Regions from separate parts of the Homo sapiens genome. Here region 2 is linked to region 1. The links come from fine-mapping of genetic effects on gene expression. Tissue or cell type: unexposed skin. Region 1 holds a variant in brackets; the other region holds the start of a gene. All regions are shown on one strand. Distances are between the middles of the regions.

Evidence for each region.
Region 2: ZNF133 starts here. The variant in region 1 is fine-mapped to the expression of ZNF133 in unexposed skin (GTEx, PIP above 0.99).

What each region holds. Positions count from the first base shown.
Region 1 is chr20:18,308,377-18,317,456 of GRCh38, reverse strand. ZNF133 (zinc finger protein 133) reads right to left here. Exons shown (of 7, transcript NM_001352452.2): 7 at 461-2,388. The coding sequence ends at 641. ZNF133-AS1 (ZNF133 antisense RNA 1) reads left to right here. Exons shown (of 9, transcript NR_187570.1): 7 at 645-745; 8 at 1,458-1,627; 9 at 3,494-6,096. Among named protein-coding and RNA genes, the nearest start is that of ZNF133, 24 kb to the right of the region's middle. The variant A/G (reference allele first, on the strand shown) is at 5,251.
Region 2 is chr20:18,283,554-18,292,633 of GRCh38, reverse strand. It overlaps ZNF133 (zinc finger protein 133), which reads right to left and starts at 4,107. Exons shown (of 7, transcript NM_001352452.2): 1 at 4,030-4,107. RefSeq lists enhancers at 3,375-3,494, 4,055-4,394, 3,500-4,405, 4,485-4,534.

The DNA of each region.
Region 1 (9,080 bases):
TGCTTGGTCACAGCTGCAAGACCAGGCCGTGGGACTGGAGTGCTGGGGACAATGTATTGGTGAGAGGGCCCCCGATGGAAGGACCAGGGACTAAAAAAGCCTGAGAAACACAACAAAGGTAGTCAGGGGCAAAGGCAACAACGGAGATGTTTGAAAGCTGGGAGGAGAGAAGCAGGAAAGGGGCTGTCAGAGCCAAGGGATGGGGGTAGCTGCAGATGGAGCCGGACTAGAGGAAGCTACACTTTCTGGAAGATCCCCTCCCATCCCATGAAATCTCTTTATGTAGTTCCTAGATTCTCTCCCCATACAAAGGTCCAGTCTTTCTAATAAATCTGCAAATGATTTGGTTCTTGTTTTCCGAGGAAATGAATTCCTGTGGAATAGTGGACTTAAGGGTTTCAGATGTCTGTATCATTCCTTATCCCTGTTATAGATGAGTGAATGAGGGACACAGGCACAGTTACAGATGTATAAAGAAGCCAAGTTTATTACAACCGAAGGCCACAAAACATGGAGAAGACTTAGTGTGGAGAAAGTAAACAGTCAAATGTCCTTTGACCACTTACAGAATGCATTTCTCTACTCCATTTCATCAAAGTGTCAACATTCTGACTCTTAGTCCTTGTCCCCATCTTTGCCTTCAGAGAGAGTATAAGGAATCCGAAGGTTGCCCTGCACACGGCTCAGGGTCGGGCTGCACTGGCAGTCTGTGGTGGACAGACGTGGTCTTCCTGTGTCTGCTGAGGTGAGACTTGAGGCTGAAGCCCCGCCCACACGTCTTGCACACATATGGCTTCTCCCCCGTATGTGTCATTTGATGTAAGGTGAGGTGTGACTTTTGGAGAAAGCCTTGGCCACACTCTCTGCACACACAAGGCTTCTCTTCCGAGTGAGCCCGCTTGTGTGTAATTAGAGCTGACTTATTGCCAAAGCCCAGTCCACACTGCCTGCACATGTAGGGCTTCTCCCTCGAGTGCTTCCGCTTGTGCCTGATGAGACCGGCCTGGTGGCTAAAGCCTCGCCCGCACTCTCGGCACACATACGGCCTCTCCCCTGAGTGCGTCCTCTGGTGTGCAACAAGGTTTGACTTCTGGCTGAAGCCTCGCCCGCACTCCCCACACACCATGGGCTTCTCGCCTGAGTGCGTCCTCTGGTGTCTGATGAGGTTGGATTGCTGGCTGAAGCCCCGGCCACAGTCCTTGCACACAATGGGCTTCTCTCCTGAGTGTATGTTCTGGTGTCTGTTGAGGTGTGACTTGAGACTAAAGCCTCGCCCACACACCCCACAAACATACGGCTTCTCCCCAGTGTGTGTCCGCCTGTGAGAGATGAGGGTTGAATTCTGGCTGAAGCTGTGCCCACACACCCCGCACACATAGGGCTTCTCCTTTGAGTGTGTCCTCTGGTGGTTGACAAGGGTGGTCCTCTGCCTGAAGCATCGCCCACACTCCTTGCAGGCGTAGGGCTTCTCCCCAGAGTGCGTCCTCTGGTGGGAGATGAGGTTTGACCTGTCGCTGAAGCCCAGGCCACAGTCACTGCACACGATGGTCTTCTCCTCCAAGTGTGTCCTCTGGTGTCTCACGACAGCTGACTTCTGGCTGAAGCCTTTGCCACATTCCCGGCACACGTAAGGCTTTTCCCCTGAGTGTGTCCTCTGGTGTATGATGAGGTTTGACTTCTGGCTGAAGCCTCGCCCACACTCACTGCACATGTAAGGTTTCTCACCGGAGTGTGTCCGTTCGTGTATGATTAGCGTTGACTTCCGGTTAAAGCCTCGTCCACACTCCCTGCACACAATTGGCTTCTCCCCCGAGTGTGCCTTCTGGTGTCTGGCGAGGCTCTTCTTTAGGCTGAAGCCCTTCTCACATACCCCACACACGTAGGGCTTCTCCCCTGAGTGTATCCGCTGGTGACTGAGCAGGTTTGTCATCTTGCTGAAGCTCAGTCCACACTCTCCACAGTTGACTGTTCCAAATCCTAAGACTTCTATCCTCTTCAACAATTTGTCTGTTTCCTCAGGGTTCCCTGACTGAGCTGGGCTGGCTTCTAACTCCACCCCTCTGAGGCCGTTCCGAGAGCTGACTGGCTGCCTCTGGGGTGGCCTGGAGAACGCTCCCAGAGTCCTTTTCTTGGTTCTTCCAAACAAAGGCATGGCACCTTCTCCCTCAGGACCTTCTGCTTGATCACTCCAGGGTCTCCCCTCAGAGGCTTGTTGCTGCTTCTCCTGGTCCCCTGGGCCCGGATCCCCAGGCTGGATGTTACCTTCTGCACACAAGCATGTGAAGATCCAGGGGGGATGATTACACAGCACATGCTGCATGGGGAATTTCTGACTGGAGAAACCCGGAGGGCAGAAAGGATCGAGGTAGAGCTCTGGCTCTGGATCTGCTGCAGAGAGAAAAGTGTGAGTCACAACTGAGTCCTCAGTGGGCAGCCTGAGCAATCAGCTTAGTCAGATCCCCTAGGCTTCAAAACACTTAGGCCTTAAGTGCCATCCAACCGGGACTTCCTTTACATGGCCTACTCTCCAGCCTACTGCTACTTATTACGTCTAGCATTACAATCTAGAAAACCCACTTGTTAAGACCTGCTCTACATATAAGACTACACAAGCATCCCTGGCATTTTTGGGTGTGTAAATAGGGCCAGTATGGAACAGTTCCCCCTCACCTTCAATACAATTAATTACCTTCTAACTCACAACCATGCACACTGAGATAAATCATGTCCACAAGTACTTTCTTCTTTGATGGAAAGATGTCTAACCCTAGGACTCATGTGGAAATGTCCTTCCTTATTTCCCTATGAGGACAAGGGGATGGATTGAGAAAGCAGTTATTTAGAGTGAACAGAGAAGCCCTGGTGTAGGGAGGAGCATGAGAGGGTAGTGAAACAGTATGTGACACACCCGAGCTGCTGTCTCCCCACTCAACAAAGATTTGTTAGATTACTCTATGCCAGAATTTCTAGGAGGCAGTAGGCTTTCAGCAGTGGACAACACAGAGCCCAGGTCCCCAATGACTTTAAAGGATGCTCCCTCCTGGTACCCCCAACCTATTTCCATAATTAGTGTAAATAAAATTTTCCCCAAAAATCAGTGTAAAAGAAGAAATTTCTACTTATAGTGCCTCTTGTGTAGGAGATGTCAACATTGAGTATATTGTTTTATCACAACTGGGTCTAGTCAGCTGAAGGCAATCAATGACCAGGCAATATGAGTAACGAGGTAGAGATCTCGATGGATCTACCCGAATGCTCTTTTCTTGACCAATGAAAAATCAAGCTTATTAAAAGTGTACACATCCACATTCCAGAATTATTCCATGCTACGCGAAATGCTACTTTTCAATCCTAATTACAATGAGCAGAACCACCTTTTCTTACCACTTAAAAATTCCTGACTCTTCCTACTCAGCAAACTGCCCAAGTGAATGTCTTCCCTTCTGTGTTTCACTGCCTGGCCAGTAAATAAGCTCAACTTTTCTCCTTTCAGTAGCTCTGGTGGCCTTTACCTCAGGCTTTGATGACAGACAGAGGAACCAACAATCTAACCTGATGCCTGCCTCTCCCCACGCCAGTGCTGAGGAGCTCCTGCAGAGAAAGCCTGCTCTTCCAGCCCTTGTATTCAGGACAGGTGCCGGGTGGTCCCTCAAGACCCTTTTTCAGCAGTAAATCCTACCTGCTTTCACTGAGTTCTCACTAAGTTTATTTGGTTTAATCTAGGTTGTCTGAGGTTCCACAACTCATAACTGATTTTGTGTTCTATTTCTGGCCAGCAACTTCCTTGACATTATGGAAACTTGAGTTGGGTGGAGTTGTCAGATTTGATTTATTGGCTATTTTGTTTCTCTTGAATACGACAGGAGAAGGGAAGCAACAGCTCATATCTCCTTGGCTTACCTTCATACATATTAGGGCATAGTCATGGGTAAGTAGGTCTTTCAGCAGTAAAAGGAACTCCTGTGTCTGTCCTGAGTTAAGCACAGTGACTATAATTTTGACACAGGTAATACCTCCCACCCACCCTTATAAGAACCAAGGCTTCTGATATGTAGGCTTATTACAGCCCTAGCTGCTGTGCCTATGTGTAAAGTGGCAGGCTTTTATTTACACTAAATGTATTTCAGAATTATAGAAGCGCCTTCAGAGAAATCTTAATTCAACATGGTTTTAACATTTGTATGGAGTGACAGAAGAAAAACAAAACTTTAATTCTCCATTAGTCAGTTTTTTCAGTTGGTCACCAAATTTGGCATTCTGTGTATACACTAGGAATATTTAGTCTTAGAAGAAATTTTAACACAAAATATTACCAGGTTAATGAATTTATTTATAAAATATTTTAAATCTAAGGTGCTCCTGCACTGATAGGTTTATAGAGACTAATGGGCACTGACACAAATTTAAAATTTAAAAACTCGAGAATAACTAAATTAAAAAAAAAAAATCAGGCCAGGTGTAGCGGCTCACGCCTGTACCAGCACTTTGGGAGGCTGAGTCGAGTGGATCACTTGAGGTCAGGAATTTGAGACCAGCCTGGCCAACATGGTGAAACCCTGTCTCTTCTAAAAATATAAAAATTAGCTGGTTGTGGTGGTGTGCACCTATAATTTCAGCTACCCAGGACGCTGAGGCAGGTGCTTGAACCTGCGTGGCGGAGGTTGCAGTGAGCCGAGATTGCGCCACTGCATTCCTGCCTGGGCAACAGAGCAAGATTCTGTCTCAAAAAAATAAAAAATAAATAAAATTGAAAATTGAACTCCTAATGATTCAAATATGCCAGTTTCTGAAGGAAATCTTTCTTGCTGCAGCTGAAGCTCTGGCTCTGAAGAAAAAAGTTTAGCTGTGAATTAAGCCAGGCACCTTGCTTATTAGGTTGCACGATAAGAAAGAAATGTGAGGCACTCAGAGCTTATTTACTACAATATGTAAACAACCTTACTAGCTGGTATGTAACTAAAGGGTGGAATCAATATTTCAAAGTAAGATAAAGCCTGCAAATAAGACAAATGCAATGTCTTTTCCCTTATTTTATCAGTGTAAACATAACATTAGCATAATATTCTAGTGATATAAAACTTGGTTCTGATATGTAGGCTTTCTCAAAGAAAGTTTAACTAATCTAAACTTCCAAGACTAATATATAGGTTCAGCATCCCTAATCTGCAAAGTTCCAAAATCTGAAAATCTTTAAGCACCAACATGCAGCCACAAGTAGAAAATTCCACAGCTGATCTCATGTGACAGGTC[A/G]TAGTCAAAACACAGGCACATAAAATTCAGTTTATTCAGCATCCTCAAAGGAAAAATATAATTACCTTCAGGCCAAGTGTACAAGGTGTACACAAAACATAAATGAAATTCCTGTTTAGACTAGGGTCCTATACCCAAGATATCTCATTATGTTTATGGTAATATTCCAAAATGCAAACCAACCAACCAACCAACCAAACAAACCCAAAATCTGAAACACTTATGGTCCTAAGCATTTTGGATAAGGGAGAGTCAACCTATACTGATTTTAAAAATCAGATAGGCTAATATTGCCTTCATAAATATGTAAGATTAGGCACATGTAGATATATGTGTCCAACTAGTATCTTATAATTTACAGACAGTGCCAGAAATTACGTGAATCTACAATTACTTTACTCAAAGTAAATACCAGAAATGGCATATTTTTCAGGCAGTTTTTAACTTAAGACTGATTAAGTTGTTTTTCAATTTCTAAGATCTCTGTTAGGAAATCATTATAAGAATAAATATTTTTGTTAAAAAATTCAAAAACAAAACTATACAAAGTGTTCTCATGCAATAATTTTACTTGTATTTTTGCCTAAACTAATGAGATCAGCCTTATGTTAATTATTTGAGACTGAAACTTAAAACTTTAAATACCGTCCATCAACACTATATATGCTTAAAAACATGTACAATTATTTAGCTTGCCAATAAACAGAAAAAAGCTTAAACTTGACAATAATACTGGTAACTAAAAAAGAATTATAACTTGGTGTATTTCTGTCCTCCATATGAAAAATAACTAATTTTTGTCTTTTGTATACTCAACTTAGAAATAAAAGCTCTATTTTTACCTCACCAGATATCCAATTTCTCATTCTTTATTTTTTAAATTTCTTACAGATAGGATCTCACTCTGTGGCCCAGGCTGAAGTGCAGTGGTACAATCATAGATCACGTAGCCCAAATTCCTGGGCTCGAGCAATCCTCCCTCCTCAGCTTCCTAAGTAGCTGGGACTACAGGCACACAACACCTCACCCTGGCTAATTATAAAAATTTTTTTAGAGACAGAGTCTCGCTATGTTGCCCAGGCTGGTCTTGAACTCCTGGCCTCAAGTGATCCTCCTGCCTTGGTCTCAGCCTCCTGAGTAGCTAGGAATACAGGTGCAAGCCACAGCACCTGGCTTTAGTTCTCATTCTTAGGCTTCTGTGTTACCTCTTACCAGGCTTCTTAGTCAATATAAATAACAAGGATTAGTCACTTCAGGAGGGCATATAATTCTTCATAATTATGGTAACTCCTGTTACTTTTAAAAAACTAATTAATTTTTAAATTGACAAAAAATGTATATATTCATTGTGTACATTTTGAAATATATATACATTGTGACATGGCTAAATTGAGCTAATTAACATATTGCATCACCTCACATACCTATCATTTTTTGTGATGAGAACACCCAAAATCTACTCTTAGTGATTTTCAAGAATACAATATATTGTTATTAACTGTAGTCATCATGTTATACAATAGATCTCTTGAACTTATTCTTTCTATGTGAAAATCCTTTGACCAACATCTTCCCCAACCACCCCCATCCCCTAGTAACCACCATTGTATTCTCTTTCTCTATGAGTCCAACCTTTTTAGACTGCACATATAAGTAAGATTGTGTGGTATTTGTCTTTCTGTGACTGGCTCATTTCACTTAACATAACATCCTCCAGGTTCATCCATGTTGTTGCAAATGATTCCGTTACATTTATTGAATTAGCATTCTGATTAATGAAACAGCCGAGAAAATTAAATACTTTTCTTGTAACTAGCCTATTTTGAGGATTCTGATATTGCCTGTCTTAAATCCAAGTCCCAAATATAGAATAATGAAACCGTTAAGATGTATTTTATACCTAGAACAGTCTTCCTCCCGTTACACATATATTTTGGGTTTCCAAGACAGCTTCCTGGGCAACCACAATGACTTGCTCCTTGGATTGTACAGCATTCTTTTTAATGTGCTCAACATCATTGTAAGAGCTGCTGTTTTTCTTTAAATTAAAACAAGGATTAAAAACGAGACAAAAAAGATAGGTTTCGCTTTAAGACAATGATAGGTAAGCTGCTTGTTATTAATATAAATGTTTTGATAATTCTATACTTTTCAGGTTGAGAAAACACATATTTGTGTAAATGTACAAAGGTCAGGGTGTATAGCATTTTCCCAGCCTCCACCTGCCAATTCTAGAATGAACACACAGGTCAGATAATGCCCCTACATCCTCTCCTTCTCTGTCCAACATTCCTTCCATGTCCTTGGCTAGACACCTCTCTTGTTCCTTGAGAGGAAGATTTTTGTAAGATTCCCTCAAGTAGATAGACAGCTTCTTCCTTTCATATCTCAAGCATTACACAGTGGGATGAATGTCCTTGTTTTGTAATGTGGCTTCCACACCATTACCTACCATACTTTTTTTAGGACCATCCACAGGTCTCCTGGTTTCACACACTGCCCTGAATATTTGATCACCTACCAGCCTCACATCCTCTCCACACCAATACCTGTCAGCACTCTCAGGGTGCTCCACAGGGCTGAGCCTCTGGCTAAGACTCCAACTTCTCAGCAACACTGACCTCACCTGCACTGTGAATGCTGTTCACAGACACTGCACAATCTTCACATTCTCTCCTGTGCACATTCCCTTCTCTGACACAGCCTTTTCTTCTACCTTCTGACTCACTTTGCTCAAGCACCATGGGCACATTGGTTCCTGACCTTATTTGGGGCTCCAATCCATGACCTTTCAGCTTATACACCAGTCCCTCATCTTTACTCCTTCATACAACTGAGATCCAATGGACTTACATATCCAACTGACCTTTTATGGAACTATATATTCGGCGGAGAGTCTATGAAATCACTATGGTGCTCTCACAAGGATGCTGTTATGGACTGAGTTGTGTTTCCCCCAAATTCTTATGTTGAAGCTGTAATCCCTAATGTGACTGTATTTGGAGACAGGGCCTTTAAAGAGGTAATTAAGGTTAAATAAGGTCGTAAGGGTGGGCCCTAATCCAATGGGGCTGGTGTCCTTTTAAGAAGAGGAAGAGACGACAAAGATGTGTGAGCATTGAGAAAGGGCCATGTGAAGACACAGGGGGAAGGTGGCCATCTGTAAGTTCAGGAGTGAGGACTCAGAGCAACCAAACCTGCTGACAACTTGATCTTGAACTTCTGGCTTCCAGAACTATAACTAAATGAATTTCTGTTGTTTAAGCCAGCTAGTCCACAGTATTTTGTCATGGCGGCCCAAGGTGACTAATACAGATGCTTTACTTCCTTTGCCCTGACCTTCCTTCTTTCCTATTGCTGTAGTAAAACACCTACTCATCTGCCTCAGTCAACCCCTGAGCAAGTCTCATGAAATTTATCTGTTATTAAGTAAAGTCACTATTAAAAGTTAACACCACTTGGTTTGACAGCAAATGCAACACCAGCTACATGCTGCTGCTTAAAAGCAAAACACCCAAATGACAATGTTTTTATTTTAAAATAAAAGGATGAACAATAAAATACCAAAAAGATGCACCAGAAAGTACAGTGCTAAGACTAAAAAGAAATAAAGAGGAAGTTAAAGGAAACAATAGCTCATGGAACTAAGAGAATTTCAGCATTAAAAACTTCATTAATGAGTAAGATAAAAATATCCTGAACCTTTCTATACCTAATAGAACAATAAAGTGAAATATAACACAAAAACTTAGAAATAAATGGAGAAGTTGATATAAATTACGACTGTGGAGAGCTTTAGGATTCCTTCTAACAGATGAACAGTAAGGATA
Region 2 (9,080 bases), 25 kb after region 1:
ATAAAGCAGGGAAGGAGAAAGGATAGTCACAGAAGTGGGGTGAGGTTTTAGAATTTTAGATAGGGTGATTTGGGAAGGCATCTCTGAGGTGACTGAGTAAAAATCTCAAGGATGTGAAGAGCCCAGGGAATAACTTTGAAAAGAACATCTAGGGCAAGAGAACAGTCAGTGCAAAGGCCCTGATGCAAGGAAGAATCAGGCTGGCATGGCCAAGGGACGGACAGTTCACTGTGGCTGGTGTGGAGTGACTGAGATAGTGTGGTACAGATGAAGGCCAAGAGTAAATGTAGGGACATCAGACCTAGCTTTGTAGGATACTGGTTTTGACTTTGGTTAGGATGAGAAGCCACTGGAAGATTTTGAGCAAACACATGACATGATTCGATTTACATTTAAAATCTCCTTCTATTTGCTCCACTGATTCATGTACCTTAGCGGGACATAGGCAGAAACAAAGAGATCACTGAAAGGCTATGATCGTCCAGATGAGACGGTGGCCTGGACCATGGTGGAAACAGCAGGGCATGGAAACTGTCGGAGTCCAGATTTCCGTAGTGTGGATGAGGGTATAAGAGCAAGACAGGATCAAGGATGACTCCTTGATGACTCCAAGCAATCTGAAGGAAAGAGCTGAAATGCTTCTGCTCCAAGATAAACTCTTGAAAGGATGGTCTATATACCACTGGGGTGGAACATGTTCAGGGAAGGTAATCAGAGTTTCTTGTTGCACACATTAGTTTTGGGATGCCCATAAGATATCCAAGTGGGGTGGCACACACCTGTAGACCAGATACTCAGGAGGCTGAGGCATGAGAATCACTTGAAGATGGGCAGTGGAGGTTGCAGTAAGCCGAGATTGTGCCACTGCACTCCAGCCTGGGCGATAGAGCGAGACTCCTGTCTCACTAAAAAAAAAAAAAAAAATCCAACTGGAAATGTGAAGAAGGAGACAGTAGGGGACCAGGATGTGAGTTGCACACAGAGCTCTAGGCTGAGCCTCAGACAGATGGCATTTAAAGCCTTGAGAATGAACGGGAGAACCAAGGAGACAGTATAGCTGAAGAAGACAGGAGGTCTAAGAACTGAAGCAGGGCCTTTTCCACGGTGGAAATTTGGGAGGGAAGGAAGAGCCAGTAAAGGAGACAGAGGAGGAGCAGGCTATGAGTTAGGAGGAAAACCAGGAAGACCTAGTACCAAGAGCAACTGTGTGAAAGGATATATTAAGAAGGAGGATGTAAACAATTACATCAAATGTTGCTGAGAACTGATTGTGGCCTTTAGTCAAGGAGACCATTGGTAACCCTGACAAGAATATTTTTTGGTGTCACTTGAAAAAGCCTTACTAAAATATTCGAAACATAACAGAAGGATAGCAACGCAGACAACAAACATAGATAATTCTTTCAAGGAGTTCAGCTCTAAATGGGAGGAAAGACAAGGCAAGAAGGTGAAGAAGAGACAGGAAGCTAGGGCAGTGCAGAAATGGAGACAAAGGGAAAGAAAAGGAATCGAGAAGAATGCACAGGTGGAATAGGAGGATACAACTTTTGTTTTGTTTTGAGGTGGAGTCTTGCTCTGTTGCCCAGGCGACAGATTCTCCTGCCTCAGCCTCCTGAATAGCTGGGATTATTGGTGTGTGCCACCACGCCTGGCTAATTTTTGTATTTTTAGTAGAGATGGGGTTTCACCATGTTGGCCAGGCTGGTCTCGAACTCCTGACCTCAGGTGATCTGCCCGCTCTGGCCCCCCAAAGTGCTGATTACAGGTGTGAGCCACTGTGCCCGGCCAGGAGGACACAACTTCTAATGGGAAGTAAGTTTGGAAACAAGGATGCAAGGAAAACTCAGAGGTCCAGCTTATATCAAGTTATAAGGCTGTCAACACAGATCAGCAAGATCAGAAGAAATAGGAGGAGAAATGAGGCAGAGATAGGGAAAACTGGGATGCTGTTTCCAGATACTTTTCCCTCTCCTGCCTCTGACCAGGGCTGTTCTGACTGGTGGAAAAAAAAGATTTTTTTTTTAACAATGGGGGAAAACAATATGGGCTAGATATTAAATGATATTAATAAGTTATTAATTTTGTTGGGTATAACAAAATATAATTGTAACAATGTAACTGTATAACAATGAAATTGTGGTTATGTTAAAAAAAGAAGTCCTTATGTGTTAGAGATGCCTCCTGAAGTGTTCCCAGGTGAAATGATATAACTGGGATTTGCTGCCAAAACTCTAGCAGGGAAAAGAGTAAGTGAGAGTATTGGAAGACAGAAGAACAGAATGTTAACAACTTCACAGGACCTGACAAGCCCTGGGAATGAGCAGTCTGAACAAATACTGAAAGAAGGAATGTAGGGGAAGAATATAGGTGTAATGAATGAGAGCATCAGCTCTGAAAAATATTCCCTGTGAAAATGATCACTCTTAAAACAAGCCTAGTTTCCTGAAGGAACCAGCTGGGGCCCTGATCCCTGGATGGGACATTGTAGAACACAGACGTCAAAGCTGAGCAAAAGAAACCCACTCATGGTTCGAAATGCAAAAGGTAAGTGGCACCCACCTGAAGCTGGGCTGTCAGGAGCTCAGGAGTACCCCCTTTCCCCAGCAGGCAGTCCTCTCTGGGCAGACAGGAGCCACAGGGAGGCAGAACAAGAACAAAAAGCGTTCAAGAAAATCAAGGGAAATCCTCTCCAGCAGGGCAGTACCTCCTATTCCTTAACAGCATCAGGAATGAACCTGCCACAGAAGAAAAGGAGAAAAGAACTGCGGGCAGCTTCCTGGGAACACAGCTGGGGTACAGGTTGAAAGCACGACCTGCCCTGATATGCTGTTGACGCTGAGCATGAAGCGACCTTCTCTGTGCCTGTTATTAATGAAAGGTAATATTCACTGAACACTTAGTATACACCAGAGACTGTTACAGCCACTGTAGGAGTTTCACCTCATTCTATCCTTTCAACAACCCAATACGATAGATGCTATTATCCTCTTTAGGATAAAATCGAGGAAACTGAGGTACAGTGAAGTCAGCATCTTGCCCAAGGTGACACAGCTATAAAGTGACAGAGCCTAGAGGAAATGTGGCTGTGGAGACCGTGCTCTTACACAGTAAGGGCAGTGACGGTGAACTCTGGATTGCAAGGATTCTCTGTGTCCATTCTGAGATGAATCAAGATTGGTCATAAGGTTTTAAGTGTTGAATCTGGGTGATGGAGATCTGGTCTATAGAGTTCTATCTACTTCTGGCTGTTTGAAATTTCTCCGCAATAAAAACTTAAATGGAATGTAAAATCCCAAAGCCTGGCCACACCAGGGGCCTGGGAATCCGTAATTCTTGCGATCAATGACGGTCCCTGGGACCTTTGGAAAAAACCTGTCCTGTGCGTCCCAGCCAGACTTCCTCCTCCAACGCCCGAACCCGGGGGTGACCAACCAAAGTGAAACCCTAAGATCGCGGCAAAATGGCCACCCCAGATCCAGTCTAACCTTGGCTTGTTTGGTCAAGCCAGACCGCTCCTCATTCCACTCCAGCAAAGCCGAAGAATAGTGTGGCCCCAAGAGACTAGCCCTCAACCGACCAATGCCTCGGGGACACATGGCCCCAGGGATGGTTCCCATTCCACCACCTGGGAAATACCATTCCCCCAAAAAGCTTATTTATTCAACTCCCCCAAAACCGGGGACTTATGGCATCAGCGACTCCCTTTCCCAATACCCGACTTCAGCCAAAGCCGAACCTGTCCCCACCCACAAGAACCCTAGGAGAGAGAGCCCGATCCCCCACTCATCACCATCCAGTTTCACGGATGGGCTTCACCCAACTCCCCTGGAGATGCACGCCCACACCCCCAAAATAAGACATCTGGGAGAGGACGGCCTGCGCCACGCCAGCGCGTTCCCACCACAATCACCACCCCCGCGCCACCCGCACGGTCCCCAAATTCAGCCCATAGTCCAGCCTTTCGGGACCTTCCTTTTCGCGCAGAAAAGGGTACGGCTGCGGCAAGGGTCCCGCGGGAGCCTCACTCACCAGCGCCACCAAAGAACAAGGGGTCGCTCCAGCCACCAGCTGGGGAGCTCCTCCAGCGGGGCGCCAGGACTACACTACCCCGAATCCTCGGCACAGCGCCCGGACCACACCTCCCAGGATGCTCGGCGCCACCAGGCGCGCCCTGAAGGCCGGCAGCTCCCATTGGCCTCTGACGGATCCGTTTCTGAGTAACACGCTCCGGTCACCGGAGAATGGCCACTGTGGCACCTGAATTCTCCCTCTTTTTTCTTAACCACGTGCATAAAACACGTAGGAGCTCCCGAGAAGAGTGCCTGGCCCTACTGTGACCCTCCTTCTGAGCGCCTCTGTCTCGAAAACTACACTTCCCAGTGACCCCTGGAGCGACTTCCGCACCCGGTACCGGCCCCGCCCCTTGGCGCGCGGAAATGACGTTTCGGGGCGCATCTGTTCGGCTTCTGGGGTTGGCGGAGGTGTACCGCTGGCTGACCAAGCTTGTTCAGGTGCTGGTTTGTGTTGCAGCGGCCTGTGGTCTCCCTGGCTCCAGCCGCCTGCTTGGAAAGTCACGCCCCATATTCCTAAACACCGGGCGAACGTCATGTCGTATACCCTTTAGCTCCATTTAAAGCCTTGAAAAGGCCGAGCAGTCTGCCTGAAGTCTCACATCCCGTACGAGGTAGACCCGATTCTGAGCCCACGCCCTCAACCCGAATACACCTTTTCCGGTGCCCTGAGACCTTTTTCTTCTTTTTGAAATCCACGAAGTTATTGTTAAACTCTCATCTCCTGAGAAGCAGAAGCCTCAGTCTCGGGCCAGAGCTTGGCCTGCCGTCGGCTTGGATCTCTAGGTCTTTGTCCGGGATCCTGGTTGAGAACAAGATTGCGCTGGTGCCATCTGGGACGCCCCATCTGGGGAGCTCGAGGGGAAGGCCCACGTCACTCTTGAGAGGGCTTTTCCACCCGTGCACCCTCTCACTGCCCTTCACCTTCCTCAGATAGGCTTTCTGAAACTTTGTCATTCTCTTGGAAGACCAAGAAAATGACCACTGTCTGAAGGGCCAGGGAGATGAGAATTTCCTAAAATTCTTTTGTAGCTCTCAGAGGGTGAATCCATTCCCTTCTGGTACCCCGAGGCTACATTATTTATTGTGAATTCAGTTCAGTCCTGGCTCCGGAGACATGTCCAGTGTCAATTGGATTCATCCCTCAACATCATTCTCTGCCTCATGAGTCAGTCATCACCAAGAAATTAGTTGTTAATACACATAAAGGTTCAGAACAACAATGCAGGGATGCCTGTGTTCAAGTGTTCACTTGTGCTGGCTGTACAATAAAGACACAGATGGCTGACATCTCTTAAGCCTGGAAATGAAGACTTACAGGATGAGGTGCTGCCTGAGGAATTAGGCAAGATGAGGAGTTGGAAGAACACAGACGAGTAAGGAAGAGTGTAGGAAGTGTGAACAGAATCTCAGGGTCTGAGCCACTGGGTGGACTGTCATGACCACAGTGAGATTTTCAGCAGCACGTGGTCTTGCAGCCAGCTGACTTGCATATAGACAGGGATGCTAGATGTCCACCGTCTAGATGTACAGCTCTGTCATACAGATATTTGGTGTGTCCAGCCTCCAGTTTCATCTTTGACAGACCTCAGCATTTAATAATTAGGAGTTTCCATCTAGAAATCTGGATTGCCTGCTTTCTAAAACACTCTTTGCTGCCATGTCCTCTTTTTCTCCTGGCATTTCCCACCCACTCCATGCCATACCTCATCTGGAATACCCTTAGCTCCTCTGAATCCATCTGGTCCTTCAAGACCAAATACCTAGCTCTCTTTCGTGAAACCTTCCCTGATCACTATACTATAGTGACTACTTGAGACTCTTCTAACCCTGGCTGTACTTGGAAGCTTTTAAAAATACAATGCCTGAACACCACCCCAAGAAATGAGTTTGCAGTGGAGCCTGGGCATCCATTATTCATAACAGAGCTGTTTTCCTCTTGAGAAGGGAAGATGTTGTGTAATAATGTAGAAGAGAGATCTTGTTTTGGAAAATCAGAAGTTTAGTTATTGGTTGTTGCTATTTCTGAACCATATACCTCGGTAGATCATTTAACCCAGCGCTCTCAAAAACATGCATACATGTCACTTGGGATCTTGTAAGCAGCAAATTCTGAATCAGAATGCCTGATGGAGCCCAAGCATCAGCATTTCTAATAAGCTTCCAGATGATGCTGGTACTGCTTGTCTTCAGACCAGACTGGGTAACAAGGCTTTAAACCAATCAGGGGCTCAGATCTTTAAATTGAATATAAGCAGCTAGATTAAAGAATCTCCAAATTCCTAAATCTCAGAAAGACCATGATTCTATACTTATATTTTCTTTTAATATGTTATCTATTAAATGTAAAACACCTCAAGGTTAGGAATTGTGTTTTCATTTGTAAAGCCCATAATAGCCAGACTAGGATCACAGCAAGTGATGCTGGTTGGATAGTGAATAGGGTTAATGGTCTTGGAATCCAAGCTCCAGAGTTACAGTCAAAAGCAGGACCTAGATATTTTACCTATCTTCCCCAAGGCAGCCCTCTTGCTCCCTTGTTTTCAACATGGGCACACATGTCAACAGAGTGAGCGGAGCTGTGTTTGGCATAATGGTTTTTCATAATATTCAAGGTTGTGGCTGTGGATTTCATCTAAGAGGTATGAAGCCTGTGGAGTCCTGCTCAGAAGGACCTATACTGGGAGATGGTGCTGGAAAACTATAGCAATCTGGTCTCACTGGGTGATAATGGCTTCTCTTCCAGCTTAAAATCTGACCCACTGAGCAGCTTAAATCCCTCATGCAGGTAAGGCAGTGCATGGAGCAGCTGCCAGATATAGCTGACTTTTGCCTTTTGAACTTGAAAATAAAGACAGGTTATTCATATTTCCCCAGGGAAGGTCAGGTTTTTTTGTTTGTTTGTTTGTTTTGGTATAGTTGAGAATGGGTAGATAGGGGTGTGTGTGTGTGCACGCACACACACCGCTCTTGAGAATTTGCTTTGTCTTTGGTTTTCAGCAGTTTGACATTCATGTGTCTAAATCATTTGTTGTTGTTTGGTATTAATCCAGTTTGAGGTTTATTGAGATTCTCTAACCTGTCAGCTATTGTTTTTCATTAAATTTAGGAACTTTAGCCATCATTATCTTTAAATAATTCTCAGTTTCTTCTCATTTTGGATAATTCTTTCTCAATTTCTTCTCCTTTTGAGTCTCCACTTACACGTATGTTAGACCATTTGATATTGTTCCCGAAGCTCTATCCAATTTTCCTCAGTATGTTTTTCTGTTTGCCAGATTGGTTTCTATTGACCTGTCTTCAGGTTCACTGAAACTTCCTTTTGCCATCTTCAATCTTTTAAGCCCATCTAGCAAATTTTAAATTTTTATTTGTTACATTTTTAGTTCTAGAATTCCCACTTGTTTCTTTTTAAAATAATTTCCACTGAGATTTCCACCCCCATTTGTTTCTTTGTGATGTGTGTATTTTTCTTTAATATGTTTATGCTAGTTTCTGTAAAGTCTGTGTGCTGAAACCTCTGGACCATCTCAGGATCTATTTCTGTGACTGCCTTTTTTTCTTAACAGTGGGTCACACTTCCTGTTTTTTTGCATGTCTAGTAATTTTAAAGTTTTTTTATGCAGGACATTTTTTGTGGCATGATTCTAAATTCTCTTACGTTAGTCTGAAAGTGCTTTTTTTACCTGTAGGCAGTTTAATTACTGGATGAATGTTTTGAACTTGTGCAGGCTTCATTTTATTCTTTGTTAGGATAGATCTTTGAAAGGTCAAAGTGTTTACCAGGCTCCTCTAACTTGCAGGACTCAAACTCCAAGTTCTTTAACCCATGCAGATATTTTTACGTCCTTAATTTAGTTCCAGTTAGAGCATATCTTGAGAAGACCTTACTATAAGATGTGGTCCTTATTTTATGGCATGGCCTCTCTGGTTTCTCAGCTGAATGATTGAGGTGTTAATGAGGTTTGTTTATTCTGATTGGGCTGGAATGCCTACACTCGCCAGCCCTGCTAAACTTCTAGTATTTCCATTCTTCTCTCAAGCAGCTGTTTTCTGGTAATCATTGCATATTTACCCTGCACAAGCAAAGCTCAACTTCAGCTGAGGTGGGCTTTCCCCTCTTTGCACAGCTGCCTCCTTTCTGAGACCTACCCTACCAGTGTCATCTGCTTCACCATCCCTAAAGTCTTTTTTGCCTCCTCATCTCAGTGAGACTAGTGTGTCTTTCCCCCACCATCCCATATCATGGTCAGGAAATTGTCCCCAAGCAGTTAGCCAGGGCAAACGTAGAACTCATTTTCTGAATTTCCCATCTCTCAGGGATCACAATTTTGTGCAACCTATAGTCCAGGGCCTGAAAATAGTTGCTTTATACTTTCCCCAGTGTTATGGTTATTTATAATGGGAATGATCATCTGATACCAGTTATTCCATCATGGTCAGCAGAACACGTTAATTTGATAACTACTGTAAGTCACAAAATTTATATTTATTTCTCTGGCTATCCTAGATCTAGGACAAATCCTCACATAGGCAGCTAATTTGTTATAATCAATAAGACCATAGTTACATAAGGAACTTTAACTGGTTGTTGGGTTTGTAGCCCTTTCTCTGAAATGCTGGCGAGGTTCCTTTTATTAGAATATTGACAAAAAAATCAGCTGCAAGTTTAATAAGGTTCATCCATTTAAAAAGTCAATTTATGTTTCTGCTTAACTCACAGAAATATACCTCAAAGGTTAATGATATTCAGTAACCAGTTTTGAAGTAAAATAAAATTAGTTTAAAGGGTTAAAAAATTTTAAGATATGTGATTGGTAATACTATTCTTGGAAATACAACATGAGTATTTCAACTACAAGGTCTTTTACCTTTTCTGTAAAGACATTGTTCTGATGATTATGGGACATAACTAATTATACTCTTTATATTCAATTAGTCGGTGTCCTTGTGCTGGTTGAATTAAGTACACTTTTAAATTGTAACTGCAGGCATATTTTGTTACATCAG